4 linked regions of the Homo sapiens genome follow. The protein of the gene in region 1 purifies or fractionates together with the protein of each later gene. This does not show direct contact. Each region holds a gene or a part of one and is shown on either strand. Other genes may lie near its edges.

What was found.
Region 2: the proteins of TNFSF13B (region 1) and IPO11 purify together in Homo sapiens (affinity purification with mass spectrometry; 4 studies listed by BioGRID and IntAct, with this or other methods). This does not show direct contact.
Region 3: the proteins of TNFSF13B (region 1) and XPO4 purify together in Homo sapiens (affinity purification with mass spectrometry; 4 studies listed by BioGRID and IntAct, with this or other methods). This does not show direct contact.
Region 4: the proteins of TNFSF13B (region 1) and PDSS1 purify together in Homo sapiens (affinity purification with mass spectrometry; 3 studies listed by BioGRID and IntAct, with this or other methods). This does not show direct contact.

Annotation. Positions count from the first base shown.
Region 1 is NC_000013.11:108,271,951-108,277,248, forward strand, and holds part of TNFSF13B (tumor necrosis factor ligand superfamily member 13B), read left to right. Parts: intron 1-5,298. UniProt on the Homo sapiens protein: Cytokine that binds to TNFRSF13B/TACI and TNFRSF17/BCMA. TNFSF13/APRIL binds to the same 2 receptors. Together, they form a 2 ligands -2 receptors pathway involved in the stimulation of B- and T-cell function and the regulation of humoral immunity.
Region 2 is NC_000005.10:62,410,520-62,415,833, forward strand, and holds the start of IPO11 (importin-11), read left to right. Parts: upstream 1-2,243; 5' UTR 2,244-2,410; intron 2,411-5,314. UniProt on the Homo sapiens protein: Functions in nuclear protein import as nuclear transport receptor. Serves as receptor for nuclear localization signals (NLS) in cargo substrates.
Region 3 is NC_000013.11:20,797,976-20,802,818, reverse strand, and holds part of XPO4 (exportin-4), read left to right. Parts: intron 1-1,828; coding exon 1,829-1,988; intron 1,989-2,493; coding exon 2,494-2,663; intron 2,664-3,479; coding exon 3,480-3,654; intron 3,655-4,843. UniProt on the Homo sapiens protein: Mediates the nuclear export of proteins (cargos), such as EIF5A, SMAD3 and isoform M2 of PKM (PKM2). In the nucleus binds cooperatively to its cargo and to the GTPase Ran in its active GTP-bound form.
Region 4 is NC_000010.11:26,724,129-26,728,971, forward strand, and holds part of PDSS1 (all trans-polyprenyl-diphosphate synthase PDSS1), read left to right. Parts: intron 1-4,843. UniProt on the Homo sapiens protein: Heterotetrameric enzyme that catalyzes the condensation of farnesyl diphosphate (FPP), which acts as a primer, and isopentenyl diphosphate (IPP) to produce prenyl diphosphates of varying chain lengths and participates in the determination of the side chain of ubiquinone.

The DNA of each region.
Region 1 (5,298 bases):
ATATCTGAGCTAGGGAGAAGAAACATCTTCATCACCCTTGCTTCCGACTGCCATATTGTTTTCAAAATGAGTTATACATGCAATCAAAAATGTGGTGTACCGGTTCTCCACATTCTTGCTTGCATGTTATTTTTAAAGTGTATTTTGACTAGTTTAGTAGTTGTAAAACAATATCTCACATTTATTTTGATGTGTTGCTTGTTTACTAATATGAATAAACTTTCTGCATATTTTGATTATTTATAATTTTATCTTTTGCTAATTTTTATTTATAACTGTCTCCACTTGTCTGTCCCATGTTTTTATAATTTTGGATAAGCTCTTCCTAATTAGACATATTGATAATTGATCAAAATTTTGATGTAAATATTTTAACAGTTTTGCTTCTTTTTTTACTTGAACATTTTGCATTTCTCTATAGTAAAGTGATAATCTTTAAAAAATTTTCCCTAATATTAAAGCTAAAAATACATTTGTTCATGTTTTCTTAAGTAGTTGACTCCCTGCCACTTTGACTTTTTCATAGTTGAGTGTTTTGTTTTAACTCATTAGTCCTTCTGTTGTTTATTTTGATGAATCATCTCACATTGGCTTTAACTTCCCCCTCTCTCTTTTTTCCTTTCTAACTGGTATCTCAACCAAATGTATTAAATAGTTCTTTTTAACTCCTTGGTGTTGAAAAGCTTACTGTGTTTTATTAAGTTCCTCATAAGAGTTGAATCTATTTGAGACTCTTTTTTTTAATTGATTATTCTATTTATATGCTTTAAAGAATATTTTTAAGGTAATTTGTATTATAAGAGGCTTCAATAACTAGTAGGGTCAGGATCCTTCAATCTCCTTAACCTTCACTGCTAATATCCCCGTTTCTAAATATTAGTTTTAAAAATAAACTTTAACTTTACAATTAAAAAAAAAGATGTAGACTCATTTCAGCAGATTTAAGAAGAAAAGAATAATAGAGTAGGAAAGAAATAACTTCTTGGGTCACATTTTCCCAAAATTCTCCTATTAATACTTTTATGTATTTGTGTTTTAATGGCATCCAGGAATAGTATACTGATGAGAATCTTTCACCAAATAATTTGCAATTTGTAGATTCTAACAAAGTGAAAAAAAATTTGCCCAGATTTCCACAGCCCAGAAGTAGCTACTATTATTATTTCATGGTTTGCCCTAGACTTTTTAATAAACCTTAATACAGTGTGCATATAGGTATATATTGCACACAGTTGAGCCTTGAACAACACAAGTTTTAACAGCATGGATACACTTACAGGTGGATTTTTTTTTTCAATAAACCTATTGGAAAATTATCTGTAGATTTGTGATAATTTGAAAAAACTCATGGAAGAACTGTGTATCTTTGAAATGTTGAAAATATTAAGATTAATTAGCCATGTCATGAATGTATAAAATATATGTAGATACTGGTCTATTTTCTTATTACTATCATAAAATATACACAAAAGTTAAAAATTCTCAAAACATATGCATACAAACAGACTGTACATAGCGCCCTTTGTAGTCTAGAGAAATGGAAACAAACATAAACATGCAGTATTAAGTCATCACTGCATAAAATTAACTGTGGTACATACTGTACTACTGTAATAATTTCATAGCCACCTCCTGTTGCTACTGCAGTGAGCTCAAGTGCTGTGAGTATCTGCTTAAAACACCATGTGATGCTAATCATCTCTGCATGAGCCAGTTGTATCTCCAATCAGTTGGATATTGCAGTAAAAATGATTTCTCATGATTTGTGTGTATTTTTCTTCTTGTGTAATGCAATATCATAAACCTTGAATAACACCATGAGACCTATAGAAAATGCGATAGTGATGCTGGAAATGCTCCCAGGAAGCAAAGAAGAGTCATGACATTATAGTTGACCCTTGAACAACACAGGTTTGAACCGCGAGGGTCCCCTTGTATGTGGATTTTCTTCCACTTTCCACCCTTGAGATAGCAAGACCAACGCCTCCTTTCCCTCCTCCCCCTTAGCTTACTCAATGTGAAGAATGAAGAACTCTATAATGATCCACTTCCACTTAATGAATAGTAAATGCATTTTCTCTTCCTTATGATTTTTTAAAATAACATTTTCTTTTCTCTAGCTTATTTTATTGTAAGAATACACTACATAATACATATAATTTATGAAATGCGTATTGATTGAGTTTTTGTTATCAGAAAGGCTTCTGGTCAACAGTGGGCTGTTAGTAATTAAGATTTGGGAGTCAAAAGTTAAGCACAAAGTTTTGACTGCATGGGGTCAGTGACCCTAATTCCTGTGTTGTTCAAGGATCAACTGTATTTGTTCATATACATATGAACAATACATATGAACAATACATATATGAACAAATACATATATTTATACAAATATATGTACAAATATATACACATACAAATATATATATATATACATATATATACATACATAGTGTGCATATGTGTTATGTGTATATATTCAAATAGGACATAGTATACACACTCATAACTTTCACAAATCCAAGGTGGAAGATTTGAAGATAAGAATCTTAATGACATCATGTCTACTATTCCTTGTTAATAAAATTAGGAAATTCATTTGAATGTTGTTCTAGATACTATTCTTTGGTGGAGGGAAAGTTTATTTTATTTAGCATACTCCAAAATTAATGTTTATATTCCCAAAAAAGTTGTCTGTAACACAAGGACGTTTTTTAGTAGGAATTTTTTGGCATTGAGAAAATTCTATGCAGCTTTCTTTGATTTTTGTTTTCATTCAAGTTCTGATTTATTTTCAGTAAGACTCAAAACCTTAAGTTGTCCTTTTTACTTTTAAAGTGTTTATTTATGTTCATATTTATTAATTGTCTACATGTTTTAGAACCAAGTATTTTTATTGGAACTTCACACAAACTGTAGAAGAAGGGAGGGGAATTACCATCAGCCAACATGTCCCAATGATACTCTCTTCCAGGCATCCCATGGGTAAACAGTGGTTTTACTTAATGTTTTAATTTTAGAATTTAGTACTTTGGCTTTAGTTTTGTTTTTCTTAATTACTTTGTGTTTCAAACCAAAATCTCATTAAGCTTAATGTATTTCATAATATCATTTTTGATTGTAGTATAATAAACAGAAATGTGGGGAAATCCAGGATTAAAAAATTGCCAAATAGCTCATATTAGCCAAAAATTCACTTTTAAGCCCGTAACTGTGTTTGGAGATATTCCCAATTTAAAAATTAACTAAAACAATATGGCTTTGAAAATATTACGTAATAAAATTTATTTACAAATGGAATCATGAAGATCCACATTTTGAACATCACTTAACTATAATTTTATTAATTTTAAGAACCTAAAGATGAATGTCTTTAGAGTCTATCAAGAAAGTGAATTCTTTCAAATGGGTATCACTGACCTAAAAAGGTTCATTGTTAAAATTAGGTAACCATTGTATTTTCTTTCCTGTTAATTAATAACTATTAGAAATTTATGTGTTTTAGGATACAGAAAGACAAAATTATTTTTATTGATAATGTTTATTATAATTGTCTCAATTTTAATAATAAAATAATAGTAAAAATATGGACAATTCAAAGTAATGTAAAGCAAGAATAGAAAAAATTGTCCGTATTTCACCTTCCAAATAATTATCATGAGATTTTTGGTCAATCTACTTTAAGGTATATTTTTCTTCATTTTTAAGTGAGCTTGGGATTGTTTAAGAATTACACACAGCTTGCAAAGAATACAGTGTGTTGGCATGTACCCCTATCCAGCTTCCCTAATACTAACATCTTATATGAACATGGTATTTCATTACAAAAAGGAAACCAACATTAAGACTTAACTATTAGCTAAATTCTAGACTTAATTTGAATTTCACGAGTTTTTCTACTAATGATTTTATGTTTTAGGATCCATCAGGATATCACATTGTATTTAACATTTTTTAAATTAAAATTTTGAATGTAGCATATATAAACACCAAATATTATACCTTAAGTTTTCTATCGGATAAACCTTTCTAATTGCTAAAAGTGAAGATATCAATACTATTTTTGAGTCTTCTTTTTTGAAATCCAAAGTCCAACTCCTTTGCAAGGAAAGATGAGATGTTTGACAAGTCTGTAATGTCCAGTCTTTGCCCGGTTGGCATTTCTGGCTTAGCTGTGAGTTCCAGGCTGTAACATGAGTGTTGGAAGCGTGCAATGTAGAACTTGACCATCCAGCCCTTATCAAAATTAGGCTGACTTGAGCCTCTTACCCAGCAAGGGTGTGTTCCTTCGTGGAACAGAACCAGCTGGCTGCTGCTTAGGCGATCTTTGACCAGAGCTTTCCCTGAGAGTTATTTTTTCTTTCCCCCTGCTTCAATAGTGAGACTTTTCTTCAGTGTTGCAAGAACTGGCTTCTGTTCAACTTCTGGAAAAGCATTTAAAATTGAAAACGTTGACCTTCCAACCAAATCTTTGACCTGTTCTTGTTAAGCTTGAGATTTTGGGAAACGGAAGAGCTAGGAAACAAATCAGTCAACACAGCCAAATGTGATATTGTGTCTCTTTTACACAATCTTACATTATCGTGAGTTGAAGAGAAACAGAAAAATGATAGTACATATAGTTAATTAGCAAATTAAAATACAAAAAAATGGTAAATATGTTGAAAAAGTGAAAAGGTTAGGGCAGGTGAATGAGTATCAGGAATGTGAAGGGTGAGGAAGGGAAAGAAATGCGTTTTCATTTTGAATGGAGAGGCCAGGTTCATTAAGCCTTTTTATCTTTTCTTGAAAGCTCAATAATTCTTTATACTTTTGACTATTTTTTTTAACATTGCAGACATGGGTAGGTGATTTTTAAAATAAATTCAAAATGTTTATACCTGTGTTGTTTTTATTAGTAATTCCATATGAATGGAAAATGTTAGTTTTAATGCTTATTCTTTTTATAGATCAACTCCTACTTAAAAGAACTGCATTGAGCAGCTGCATTTTTGTTGTGGTGATATTTTTTTTTTAAAAGACATTCCCATTTCTGAAGAGTTAGAGAAACAGAAGGTTTCTCTTCAAATAGATTTATCACCCACTGTTTCTGCAAATATCTGAGGTAGGCACTCCATAATATACAGAGAAGAGGACAGCGAAGCTAACAATTATCAGGCGTGTTTCATGTGCAAACACTGTGTTGGGCTCTGGGAATGTATATCATTTACTTTCTCAACAACTCTGTTAGTTGGGCATTATTGTTTTCATTTTAGATGAGAAAGCTGCAACCCAGAGAATCAATTGCCTCTCTCAGCAAGC
Region 2 (5,314 bases), on another chromosome or scaffold:
AAAGCCCAGCTAAATTTCTGTATTTTTAGTAGAGATAGGGTTTCACCATGTTGGCCAGGCTGGTCTCGCTCTCCTGACCTCCAGCAATCCACATGCCCCGGCCTCCCAAAGTGCTGGAATTACAGGCATGAGACACTGCGCCCGGCCTATTTATTTTTTCTTGAGATGGAGTCTCGCTCTGTCGCTTAGGCTGGAGTGCAGTGGTGCGAACTCGGCTCACTGCAACCTCCGCCTCCCGGCCTCAAGCGATTCTTCTGTCTCAGTCTCCTGAGTAGCTGGGATTACAAGCGCATGCCACCACGCCAGGCTAATTTTTGTAGTTTCAGTAGAGACAGGGTTTCACCATGTTGGCCAAGCTGGTCTTGAACTCCTGACCTCAGGTGACCTGTCCGTCTTGGTCTCCCAAAGTGCTGTGATTACAGGTGTGAGCCACTGTGCCCGACCTCAACATAATTTTAAATGGTCAATTTGTATTTTATTATGTATGGATGTATTGTGATTTAATCATTTGTGTCATTGGTGGTTGTTTAGGTAATTTTATCTTTTTACTTTAAAAAACAGCCCTTGTGTGATCGACATTCTTGGAATGCAGAGCTTGGTTCAAATCCTAACATGGCCTTTTACTAGCTGTTTGACGTTAGGTGGGCTACTTGACTTCTCTGTGCTTCAGTTTCTTCATCTGTGAAGTGGACATAAAGAAAATACCTACCTCATAAGGGTTGTTCTGAGGATTAAAATAGATAATTCCCATAAAGATCTTAAAACTGTACCTGGAATATTCTAAATTAGCAATAAAGGTTTTCTATTATTAATATTTTTGAACACTCTATTTCCTTACAACTTCTTTTACTATTATTATTATTATTTTGAGACGGAGTTTTGCTCTTATTGCCCAGGCTGGAGTGCAATGGCGCGATCTCGCCTCACTGCAACCTTTGCCCCCAGGGTTCAAGCGATTCTCCTACCTCAGCCTCCCGAGTAGCTGGGATTACAGGGGTGCACCATCATGCCCAGCTAATTTTTTATATTTTTAGTAGAGATGGGGTTTCTCCTTGTTGGTCAAGCTGGTCTCGAACTCCTGACCTAAGGTGATCTGCCCGCCTCGGCCTCCCAAAGTGCTGGGATTACAGGCGTGAGCCACTGTGCCTGGCCTTACTATTATTATTTTTAAGAAATATATAGTTGGTGTGTATTTTTAATTAATTTATTTATTTTGAGACGGAGTCTATTTATTTATTTATTTATTTATTTGTTTATTTATTTTGAGACGGAGTCTCGCTCTGTTGCCCAGGCTGGAGTGCAGTGGAGCAATCTTGGCTCACTGCAACCTCTGCCTCCAGGGTTCAAGCGATTCCCCTGCCTCAGCCTCCTGAGTAGCTGGGATTACAGGCGCCCGCCACCGCGCCAGGCTAATTACTGTATTTTTAGTAGAGACAGGGTTTCATCATGTTGGCCAGGCTGGTCTCGAACTTCGGACTTCGTGGTCCGGCCGCCTCAGCCTCCCAAAGTGCCGGGATTACAGGTGTGAGCTACTGTGCCCACCCCTTATTATTTTTGAAATGGGTGTGTGTGTGTGTGTGTGTGTGTGTGTGTGAACTCTCTATATGTCCCAGGTTGGCTTCGAATTCCTGGGCTCAAGTGATCCTCCTGCCTCCATATCTGGAGTAGCTGGGACTACAGGCGCGCGCCACTGCGCCTGAGTAAGTTCTCTTTTTAAGGATAAGAAAATTTAGGTGACTATGCTAGCTTTTAGCAGAGGCAAGCAGAACTGGATTTATGTCCTTTTACATTTTTCCACTCTTGCTATTACTCAGGAGTAAGCGCCAAGCAATTTGGGTAACTTAAAAAATAAATATTTGCGGGAGGGAGGGTGGACTGATGGGAGTAAGATTCTTTAAATAACTCTTCTCTGCTGTGACGGATCCGCTATTGATATCTAGAATATAAAGCGTGAAATGGTTCTGATTGAAGCTTCAATCAACGCAGGAAACAATTGAGCTCCCTGGGAGTCGGAGAAACCAGACCTATGGTTTCCATGGTGACAGATCCGGCTAGTCCGGACTCCTGGCTCTTTATACTGCGCAAGCGCACTGCGCAAGCGCACACAACTGATTTGGATACCCCGCGCCTTTTGGTTCAAAGACAAAGCCCCTCCTTCCCCTTCCCGCCGTTCGCCTATCGCCTTCTCTCTCTGCCGGTCGCATGCGCGCTGGTCTCCTGTGACGTAGTTTTCGCGCGTCCGCGTCGTTTGGAGCTGCGACGCCAAACATGGCGTGTTCCTAGAAGCCGCTTTCGGCATCAGTAGGCGGCGGCGTGGGGTCTGGCAGCGTGGGGAGAGGGACCAACCGACGCCACTTCGTGTTGGGAAGTGGGAGCGGGAGGGCCGGGCAATTCCCGACCGAACCAAACGGTGAGGCCCCGGCCCGAGAGCCACCGAGCGCGCGGGAGTGGAAGGGAGTGGGTTGGGCACCCGAGTCCCGAGAGGCGGGAGGAAAGTGGGGCTACCAGGAGATGAGGGATAACGGTAGCGAGGCAAGGGCGGCCTGCAGACTTGGCTGTTTGCGCAACCTTAGGAACCCGGGGAACTGGGGGCTGGCCGAGGCAGCCCGGGAGTGGGCAGCATGGTAGTGGAGCAATCAGGGTGCGGGGTGGGAGGGACCGTATGCTAGGCTGAGCAGAGGCGAGTGTACCCATCGTGACCGCGGTTGCGGACCTGGGTGATGCATTTGCCCTTGGGGGATAGGTGGTGCAAATTTTGAGATAAAGTGGTTATCTCGAGTATAAGACCGTTGTGCATTGTTACTGCGCACGCGACCTTGTTGCTAATAGCAATAGTGTGATAGCTTTAAACATTAGACCCTTACATGCTTTTAATGAAAAAGTGAAGGTAGTTGTCCGTTTATAGAGAGGAGCTTCATGGAGAGGTATGGCCGCCAATTCTCAAGCTCAGCGACTCCTGTAGATTTATATTTGGGGGTATTTGTGATTCAGCAAAACTACTTTTGCTTATTACGTGTGTCATTTTTTCTTTATTATTTTGTGACATGTTGGTGAATGAGAGAAGTACTATCTGAAAGTGATTTGACTAAATAGCAAGGACTGGTAAATTACCTACTAGTGCCAAGGTTGCAGTTGACATACCTCCTCCCCTCCATAATTTAAACGAGCTCAGTTGTAGCGCGGTAGTGCCCTTCAGATTTCGGTTATTCTTCAGAAGGAAGAATAGTTTGTAGCCATAATGCTTTTCCCCCTCCTGGGATAGGAATTTTCTTCCTCCATTTTCATGTTATTTCAAACTTCTCTGTTCAGTAGAGGAGCTTCAGATTAAGGGCAGGGTGACTCTTCTATAGGAGACATCCATTGCATGACACATATTACATCTTTCATCACTGAGGAAAATTTCGGTGAAAGTAGAAACATTTTCCCTTTTGGTTATGATGGGACTGGTATTTTCTCTGTTTCTGCAGTAACCTAGCACAGGGTATAGTAGAAACAATTAATTATAGTAGTGGCTTGTGGCCATATATTATAGTCTCAGGGTAGGAGGGTGGTCTCCGCCCTAGTTGAACTTCTAAGGCCAAAGAGAATTTTCACCACAAACACATTTGGCTGTGGTAATGTTAGAGGTTTTAAACAAATATGTAAAGATTATCTGATCATTAATAGAACAATTTTTAGATTTTGTGATGTTTGAATATATTTGCATTTGGAATCAAACCAGAATGCAGCATGATCCTTGTAGGCATGTGGCTATTAAAATACACTGAAGATTTTTCCAGAAACAAAATTTTTTTTTCTCAGCAATAAAAATATTCAAATTTTGGGTAAGGTAATGTTTGATTATTTGGATTTTGACCTTTGTGTTATATATTTGTACCTGTGTGTGTGTATGTATGTAACCTCACTTCTAATTTAGTGTTATTGATGGTAATATTTTTTCCTTTCTTTATCAGCTTCAAATAGGGACTGTTAATTTCAGAGCGTTTAAGGAATGGCAAAACACATTTAGTGCTGGTGTGAGTCTGTAGTGTGTTTGGTTTGCTGACTATCAGACTTATTACAGATAAGTCCACAGTTATAAGCTTTGTAGAGCTTAAGTTGCATCAGTGTTCTTTACCCTTGCTACTCAAATTGTGGTATATAGCATCACCTGGGAGTTTATTAGAAATGCATGATCTCAGGCTCAATCCAGAGCTGCTGAATCAAAATCTGCAATTTTAACAAGTTATCTAGATGAAAGGAATGTTCAATAAATCTTGAGATGCACTACTTTGGTTGGTAACAGTTGAAGAACACTGAGGTAATGCACAAACCGGTATAAAAATTTATAGCATCATTTATTTTAATCTGAGGTGATCTTATGCTGATTATCCAGTCTGATGAAACTGAGGCCCAGAAAGGTAAGTGCCTTGCATAAGGTCACACATACCTAGATTTATAACCCAGATTCCAACTCATTCCAGTGCTTTTCTTTTGCTGGTTACTGTCAGAGCTTGTTATATTAAAAACGGACTAAAATTCATGAATGACAATTAGGTGTTCATTCAATAACAAACGTCTATTGGGTACTGTACAGGCAGCCTAACAATCCTGTGTGTCCCTGCTAACTGCTCCTGTTTATCATGGTGGCTATTAACCCACCACCTTTCCTCTTTATTTTTTTTGAGGCGGGGTCTCACTGTCACCTAGGCTGGAGTGCAGTGGCGTGATCTCTGCTCACTGCATCTTCCGCCTCCCGGGTTCAAGCGGTTCTCCTGCCTCAGCCTCCAGAGTAGCTAGGATTACAGGTGCCTGCCACCAAGCCTGGCTAATTTTTGTATTTTTAGTAGACAGGGTTTCACCATTTTGGCCAGACTGGTCTTGAACTCCTGACCTCCCTGAACTCCACCCACCTTGGCCTCCCAAAGTGCTGGGATTACAGGAGTGAGCCCGGCCCCGTCTTTACTTTTTTTTTTTTTTTTTTTTTGAGATGGAGTTCTGCTCTTTTTGCCCAGGCTGGAGTGCAGTGGCGCGATCTCAATTCACTGCAACCTCCGCCTCCTGGGTTCAAGTGATTCTCCTGCCTCAGCCTCCTGAGTAGCTGGGATTACCGGCATGCACCGCCATGCCCAGCTAATTTTGTATTTTTAGTAGAGACGGGGTTTCTCCATGTTTGTCAGGCTGGTCTCGAACTCTCGACCTCAGGTGATCCCCCTGCCTCAGCCTCCCAAAGTGCTGGGATTACAGGCTTGAGCCACCACGCCCGGCCCCCTCTTTACTCTTTACTGGATAAAGTTCCCTTCTGCTTCATAGAGGAAATGAAATACATTGAGTG
Region 3 (4,843 bases), about 87 Mb from region 1:
GGTCTTATGGTCATTGAAAATGTTTAAAAGTTATCTTTCAATATATAGACATTTGTATCAGAGTATGTAGTATGATGAACAAAATACTGGAACATAAAAATTATATTAGGATAATGTTCTATGGGAAAATGAAATTGAAATAAAAATAAGGAAAATCTGTTTATATTTTTAATGGGTGATAGTGGGTATCAGAATATTGTGATAATAAAACTCCAGTGCATAAATTTAAAGTGTTAATGTAACCATTTTCTTTTGAATTTTGTTAGGCTGGAATAGATATTTAAAATGATTTAATCTTACCAGGAATTTTGACATATCTACAACTTAAATGTATTACTGTACTGGGAGATTGTTGGGGTTTTATTTGTTTGTTTTGTTGTTGTTCATATACCCCCTAAAAAATTTTTTTAAAAAACTCAAACGAGCACTGGTGGTATAGGAAGTGTGCAGACAGTGAAGAAGGTTGGGCATGGTGGTTTATGCCTGTAATCCCAACACTTGGGGAGGCCAAGGTGGGAGGATTGCTTGAGCTCAGGAGTTCAAGACCAGCCTGGGTGACATGACGAAACCCTGTCTTTACAAAAATTTTTTAAATCGGCCTGGTGTAGTAGTGTGTGCCTGTAGTCCCAGCTACTTGGGAAACTCAGGCAGGAGGATCACTTGAACCCAAAAAGTTAAAGCTGCAGTGGACCGTGACTGTGTCTGGGCATACTGCAGCCTGGGTGACAGAGCAACTCTGTCTAAAAAAGAAAAAAAATTAGAAGAGATTCTGGGGTGGAACCTTAAAAACCTCCTGATTTAAAGAAGAAGTTCAGGAGAAGAGGATGCTGCCATGAAGACTGGGAAAGAGGAAGCAGATGGCTAGATGAAGAGAGGAAGGGCAGTGACCCCAGGGAGGCTGCAGGAAGATAAGGGCAGTGACAGTGGGCCATCCAGTGGGGTAAAGAACTGAAACACGTGTGTATGATTTCATGATGAGATCATTTCAGGCTTCCTGAGAGCACTAGTAAAGGAGCATAAGCCGAATTTGAGTGATTAGAATCCTTTTCTCAGCACTGATATTCATTAGTGTGTAATGGGGTCTTTCCATTACCTCCTTTGCTTCCTTGCCTTTTGGCTAAAGTCAGGTTAAATATATATCACTTCTGATTATGTGCCCTCCTCAACAAAGACATTTCTGTTTGTCTGCATGTCACGCTATGTGATTGACACCACACGACCATATGAATTATGTAGTGTAGGAAAGGACAATATGTGTACTTACACAGGTAATCTTTCTAGCAAGAGTTTTATTTAAAAATACCATGAAGAATCAAGTTTACTAGGAAATATTGGATTTAAACAAGGCTCAATATTCAAAACTTTCTAAATAATTCCCAGATCTTGTACTGTAACATGACCATGATATAAAAACACAAACTATACTAACCAGGGTAGTTTTAAGTAGTGATGCTAAGTAGTACATGCTAAAAGAGTTTGGCATGTACTCTGAAGATTTAATTTGATGTATTTCTCCTGAAAATCTGAAAATTTTGAATCTGAAAATTCTCTTTAGCTAGTAATGCTGATATTCACACATGTGGTTACAACTTCAGCAGAAGGACATCTCTAGTGTTGACTCTTCCTTTCCTTATCTTGTCTCCTGCTTCGTGAAAGATCAGAAATAATATGGGACAGTTGTCTAAAACTCTGTAGATGAAATGTTCAAGTATAGCCTGACCTAAATCCAGAGAACTGAAAGACAAAAAAGGACTTTTAAGGAAAAAAATATGATTAGACAGCAACTAAATAAATAAAAGAATAAATGACTTCTGTTTTATACCTACAGGCTGTTGTCTGCCATTCTCAGAGTTTCAGAAGTTGAATCTCGAGCAATAAGAGCAGATCTCACTCATCTACTAAGTCCCCAGATGGGCAAAGATATTGTTTGGTTTTTAAAACGCTGGGCAAAGACTTATCTCCTGGTGGATGAAAAACTGTATGATCAGGTCAGAATGTAAAACTTAAAACTTCATTTGGATTTATGATGATAGCAGTTATAGAAGCAGGAACATTTTTCTTGGTGGTTTTTCATCAAAATAGAACTGTTTAAGAGCAGTTTAACATTTTCTGTGTGGAAGAGAATTATGTGACTGGAATGCTGTTTTAATGTGTTTTTGAGCACATCCCTTGATATCGTTTATTTTAACTGCTGTTGAAGATACAGATTATTATTTGGGAATAGATTATGCTTTTTTGTATTTGGTTTAATACTATGTTAATTTTTTAATACTATGGGAATAATAGAAGTTGACGGGAAAATCACACTGGAAAATGTGAGTGGATTGAGGATGTCTTTTTTTTTGACCAGTGGAAATGAGTACATGTGTAAAGTTGATGTGAAGTAAGCACTACTTCAGATTAGATACTAATTTCAGTTCGATTTTTCTCTGTTTTTTTTTTCTTGAGTTGATCTTTCTTGCTTACCTTAAAAAATTTGTTTCCTCTCTTAAGATAAGTCTGCCATTCAGTACAGCGTTCGGAGCAGATACAGAGGGTTCTCAGTGGATAATTGGCTACCTCTTACAAAAAGTCATCAGTAACCTCTCAGTCTGGAGTAGTGAGCAGGACCTTGCAAATGACACTGTGCAGCTCCTTGTCACTTTGGTGGAAAGAAGAGAAAGGTTAGCCCATTGTTGGAGGCTGACTGTGTGTGTATGTGTGTGGGTGAGAAACTCTTTTTCACTTCTTAGTGTAGTCCTTTGAACTGGCAAATGGTTACACGGTCCTAATTCCAGATAGAGCCTACATTTTTGGAGTAATGGGTTTTAAAAACTATGTCACAGTACTATTACAAATGCAAATGGAGCTTTCCCATCTTATAATTGAGCATTACATTGACTCCTTCAGGATTTGGCATCAAAGCCCTATGAGTAACACATTAGTAATTTATCGTGTTGCAAACACTTTTATGTGGAATATGCTCATTTGAATTTTTAGACATCCCCATTTTAAAGATTAAATACTGATATTTAAAATTTAATGTTGGAAAGTAAAATTTTTAGTGCTTTCTACAACAATTCTAGAAATGTTTTCGTTGTTCTTACTGTATAGGAGTATCATTGTTATTATTACCATTGTCATTGTCTGGTTTATTGAATTCTTATAATTTACTATGTACTCTTCTAAGCATGTCATAGGTAGTATCTCATTTAATCATTATATCAGTCTCAGCCCCAGGAGACTGTTATTATTCCTATTTTGCAGATTATAGAGAAGTGATGATTGATAGAGGTTAAATAAATTTTACATCACCAGACAACTAGTGGGATTTGAATGTAAGCCTGTGACTTCAAAGTCTATACTAAGTTTACTGTACTTTGCTTTAACAGTAATTAAATCTAGTTATTTTTTATTTTTGTTTTCTTTGTGTGTATATGTGTATGTGTGTATGTATATACATAGTAATACATCTTATGTTTTGTTATTTCTACCTGTAGGGCAAACTTAGTAATTCAATGTGAGAACTGGTGGAATTTAGCTAAGCAGTTTGCAAGCCGAAGCCCACCTCTTAATTTCTTGTCAAGTCCTGTGCAGAGGACATTGATGAAGGCTCTAGTCTTAGGAGGTTTTGCACATATGGACACAGAAACCAAACAGCAGTATTGGACAGAGGTAACAGTGCTGTCTATTTTGATTGCACCCTTTTGTGTAACTCTGTAGTTCCTTTATCTATGCGTTGCCGTAAGAGTCTCTGGAGACATAAATGTATCAGTCATAGCTTTTCTTTCTTTCTTTCTTTCTTTTTTTTTTTTTTCTGAGATAGGGTCTTACTCTGTTGCCCAGGCTGGAGTACAGTGGTGCAGTCTCAGCTCATTGCAGCCTCTACCTCCCAGGTTCAAGCGATTCTCCTGCCTCAGCCTCCCAAGTGGCTGGGACTACAGACTCATGCCACCATACCCAGCTAATTTTTGTTTTTTTTAGTAGAGACGGGCTTTTGCCATGTTGGCCAGGCTGGTCTCGAACTCCTGGCCTCAAGCAATCTGCCCGCCTTGGCCTCCCAAAGTGCTGGGATTACAGATGTGACCAGCCACTGTGCCCGGCCCAGTCATAGCTTTTCTGATATTTTTTCTCCTAATGAATGGGTTGAAGCTTCTTATTTTACAAATGTTGTCTTATAATTTTTCTGTACCTGCCTGTGTGTGATGACATTGAATATTATCAAGTGTTCTGCATTTTAGGCACATTTTTCACAACTCAGTCGAGAGCATGGACTGGCTTATTAAATTTTCATTAGGGATCAGGGAAATATTCTCCTGTCTTGAATAAGATGCAGATTAACCATGATATTCATTTCCTAGGGCTGCTCTAACAAAATACCACAACAGAAATTTGTTTTCTCCTACTTCTGGAGGCTAGAAGTCCAAGCTATAAGGTGTCCATGGGATTTGTTCTTTCTGAAGGCTATGAGGGAAAATCTGTAGCCTCTGGTAGCTTGCTGGCAGTCTTTGGCATTCCTTGATTTGTAAACGCATCACCCTGATCCCTGCCTTCATCTTCACATGCTCCCCCTGTGTGTGTCTGCATCCACACTTCCCCTTTCTATATCAGTTATATTGAACTAGGGGCCCACCCTATTCCGGTATGACCTCATCTGAACTAATTACATCTATGACAACCCTATTTTCTTTTTTTTTGAGACGGAGTCTTGCTCTGTCACTCAGGCTGGAGTGCAGTGGTGTGATCTTGGCTCACTGCAACCTCCACCTCCTGGGTCAAGCGACTCTCCTGTCTCAGCCTCCTAAGTAGGTGGGATTACAGGTGCGCACCACCATGCCTGGCTAATTTTTGTATTTTTAGTAGA
Region 4 (4,843 bases), on another chromosome or scaffold:
TACGTTCTGTCTTTCTTCAAGTTAAAGCCTCATAGCTCTTTTTTGGGAGCTAATTTTCCTAGAAAATATTTCGGTGAAGAATCTTAAAATAGTACCCAAAAATCCCAAGAGGTTAATGAGGAAAAGAATGACATCCCCAAACAATAGAGGACTTCTGCTGTGTTTTCATTTTTGCCATCTTCTTTTGGTATGCAGGCGTTGACTTTTCATCTTTTCTTCCCAAGAATTCAATCAAAATAAGCTTTCCCGCACCTTCCCCAATCTGATTGCCAAACTGTATCATTTTGAACAATTTATCATAATTTCTCTAATGATTGATATCACACACACTCTTTCTGACACTTCACCTTTTAGAAATGAAGTGCTCTGTTCTTTAATATAATATTTACTCAGGAAAAGATATCTGTTAGATTGTACTAGCATTCTATGAACTTTTTTTTGTTTTTTTGTTTTTTGTGTTTTTTTGAGACAGAGTCTTTTGCTGTGTGGCCCAGGCTACAAAGCAGTGGTGTGATCTTGGCTCACTACAACCTCCACCTCCCAGGTTCAGGCAATTCTCCTGCCTCAGCTTCCCTAGTAGCTGGGACCACAGGTGTGCGCCATCACACCCAGCTAATTTTTGTATTTTTCATAGGGATGGGGGTTTGCCATGTTGGCCGGGCTGGTCTCAAACTCCTGCCCTCAAGTGATCCACCCACCTTGGCCCTGCAAAGTACTGGGATTACAGGCATGAGCCATTGCACCTGGCCAATACATTGCACCTGGCCAATCCTTCTAATATTTTTACATGAAATATAAACAAGTCCTATTTCTTCAGAGTACAAATTGAGTATAAGCCATAACTGTTTTTCCCCTTGCTTTCTCCCTCCCTCCGCTGTGCATACACATGTATACATTTTTTTTTTAATGAGTAATACCTTTAATCCGTAGACAAATGTGTGGTATTCATCGTTAGTCCAAGAATGAAAAGCAGTCTCTCCATAGAATTGTTTATCTGCCCATCTCTAAGCCTGACAGATACACAGAGACAAAACCTGGACAAATGACATTCCCATGTAATTACAGCCACAAAATAAGGAAGACCTGTAAGGGTCGCATGTCAATTGCTGTCATGATAGACTCCTAACATAATTAACAGGTAAAGAGAGCTTTTGCTCAGACCTCTCAGATGAAAAAGTCTCTTGCTGTTAGTGTCTCTGTTTTGAAAAGTGTCAAGAAATGTATAATTGCAAGGCAGAAAAGAATGAGGACAATCTTTTCTTCCTAAAAAGACCTAATAGAAACTTTAAGGAATGTGAATTATGTAGAACATGCTAGCCACAGTCTCGACCACTTTTGTCTTTTTATTAAAAGGGCTATTATGTTTTTATTTCCAAGAAATTATGTGGGTTTTTTTTTTAAAGTGAGATGGAAGAAAGTATAGACACGAGATGCTAAATAAGAGAATAGCCTATTTTAAGTGGGTGCTCTAACACTTTTACAGTAATCCTTTACATATTATCATGCCCTTGATGGCCCAACTCTCCCTGAAGGTCAGGATCCATCCTCTTAACACATTAGGGTGCCTTAATATTACTTACTAATATTTATCCTTAAGAGGATGTGTTAAGTGAGGCTCATTGATAATTTCACAATTTGAGACTGCAAACTTAGAAGCATTAGCATGGTCAGGCAAGGTGGCTCACACCTGTAATCCCAGCATTTAGGGAGACTGAGGCGGAAGGTTTGCTTGTGACCAGAAGTTCAAGACCAACCTAGGCAACATAGCAAGATCCCCATCTCTACTTAAAAATAATGTTTAAAAAATAAAGTCTTAGAAGCATTAGTAGTAGTGAGACTATTGGAATTGGAAACACCAAGACTTACTGTCTGCACCATGCAGACATCCTGCAGGCACGGGGTGGGGCGGCACCAAATTGGAGCTAGCACAGAAATTCACTCAGTGATGGAAGCTTACAAAGGGTCCAAAGAAATGGACCTGAGTCATGATAGAGAGGTTTCCTTGTGGTCACTGTTTTCTGTTTAAGAAGCCAAAGATAATGCACAGGAATTCTTTTATAAAGATATGCACCTCATTCTTCAAAGATTAGCAGCTGAACGAACAGTGAACATGTTAACGTGGCTGGACCCTTATTAAAAATGAAATGTTTCATGCTGCCCACTAGGGGGCATGCTGGCATCGTCCCAGCACTACCTCCTTTTCATGTGGTTTATTCCTAAACTCCACAGCTCTTAGAATAATAAAGCAAAATGATAGTGTGAGCTATTTGAATAAAAGTTTCTATATTTAAGTGCCTATGGGTGGAAATATTCCAGAGGTGTTATGGATTCAAAATGGCTATTTTTACGTACTCTTGGTATTTAAAATGCAAAGCCATGCGAGCTCCAAATAAATGCATGCAAAGCAAATTAGACACACCAAAAAGAGGGGAGGAGGAGAACTGAAAGAGCAGAATTATTACAGAAGAAGAACTAATGGGATTGCAAAATGTATTGAGAATTGGAGGGAAACTTACAAGCTGCATTCTACTAAGGATACCATTTCTTCATCTCCCTTCCTTTTTTTAGTGAAAATAATATTAAAATCTAAGAGAGGGCTGTCTAGGGGGATTGTTTTGTGATTGACTGATATTAAAATAGAATCCATTTTAGGCCGGGCACGGTGGCTCACACCTGTAATCCTAACACTTTAGGAGGCCGAGGCGAGTGGATCACTTTAGTCCAGGATTTCAAGACCAGCCTGGCCAACATGGCAAAACCCCGTCTGTACTAAAAATACAAAAATTAGCCGGGCGTGGTGGTGCACGCCTGTAATGCCAGCTACTTGGGAAGCTGAGGCAGGAGAACCGCTTGAACCCGGGAGGTGGAGGTTGCAGTGAGCCAAGATCACTCCACTGCATTCCAGCCTGGGCAATAGAGCGAGAGTCTCTCAAAAAAAAAACAAACAAACCAGAATTCATGTTATTATCAAAAGATGACTTATTTATTTACATACTTACTCACTTGCAAAATACATTTTGTACTCATGCAAAATACATTTTGTAGTTTACTAATAAAGACAGTGGCTTGTTTCCCAGGAAATCTGGTGGAAATGAGACCTGAGAGGTCAGAGGGCCTGTCCAGTTGTTGTTAAGCCAGACAGTAGCTGAGTTGAGACTTGAACCCAGAGCTGGGTATGGTAATCCTGCCTTGTTTCTCTCTCTCTCTCTCTCTTTTTTTTTTTTTTTCTGAATTTCTATTTTCTCCAGGGCTGCTTGTGGCCTGGAATTAATGGGCTCTCTTCCTATTACTTGATTTTCAAAGCCTCAGAGTACCACTACAGAATTGCATATTGTGGGTCACATTAGCAGAACACTCTTTTTTTTTTTTTTTAATTCATTTTTTTGAGATGGAGTCTCGCTCTGTTGCCCAGGCTGGAGCGCAGTGGCATGATCTCAGCTCACTGCAACCTCCACCTCCCAGGTTCAAGTGATTCTCCCACCTCAGCCTCCCGAGTAGCTGGGATTACAGGTGCACACCACCACATGCCACACCTGGCCTCTTTTTTTTTTACAATATTCATATCTATCTATAGGCCTCATTCAGATCTTGCCAGTTGTGAACTGTTATAACGAAAGGGAAAACATATTTTTCTGTTCCAGCATCCAGTCCAGGATTTCACGTTGCATTTTGCTGTCATGACTCTGTAGTCTCTTGTCATCTAGAACAGTCTTTCTTTGCCTCTCATTACCTTGGTATTTGGAAGAGTGCAGGCCAGTTATGTTGTTGAGCCTCTCAGTCGGGCTTCTCTGATACTTCTCAAGATTCGATCCAGGTTATGAATATTTGGCAGGAATACCACAAGAGCGGTGCTGTCCTCAGCTCCTCATACCAGGAGGCGCGTGCTGTCTTGTCTGTCCCATTACTGGTGATGCATGCCTGGATCGCTTGATTAGGATACTGTCGGGCCGGGCACAGTGGCTCACGCCTGTAATCCCAGCACTTTGGAAGGCCGAGGTGGGCAGATTACCTGAGGTCAAGAGTTCAAGACCAGCCTGGCCAACATGGTAAAACCCCATCTCTACTAAAATTATAAAAAATTAGCTGGGCATGGTGGCGGGCACCTGTAATCTCAGCACTTTGGGAGGCCGAGGCAGGTAGATCACCTGAGGTCAAGAGTTTGACAAGCGTGGCCAACATAGTGAAACCATGTCTCTACTAAAAATACAAAAATTAGCCGGGCGTAGTGGCAGGCGCCTATAATCCCAGCTACTCTGGAGGCTGATACAGGAGAATTGCTTGAATCCGGGAGGCGGAGGTTGCAGTGAGCCGAGATTGCACCATTGCACTCAAGCCTGGGCAACAAGAGTGAAACTCCATCTCAAAAAAAAAAGATACTGTCTGCCAGGTTTCTTCAATCTAAAATTACTATTTTAACCTATTTTGGGCAAAGTATTTTCAGATTATGTAAATATTATTCTGATGGTTGTCAAATGGCTGTTTTTCTATTTTCATCATTTCTTCTATATCACTCTTCTACAAGAAAGTTGGTATCCTATTTTTTTTGTTATTATTATTTCATTCTCAAAAGAGCTGAAGAGTTGGTATTCCATTGTAAGGAAGCTCTTAACTGTATGGGCTCTTGGATTCTTATTTTATTCTGTATCTTTTTTTTTTTTTTTTTTTTTTGAGCCAGGGTATCACTCTGTCACCCACGCTGGAGTGCAGTGGTGCAATCTCAGCTCACTGCAACCTCCACCTCCCGGGCTCAGGTGATCCTCCCACCTCAGCCTCCTGAGTAGCTGGGATTACATGCGGCTGCCACCATACCCGGATGACTTTTTTGTATTTTTAGTAGAGACGG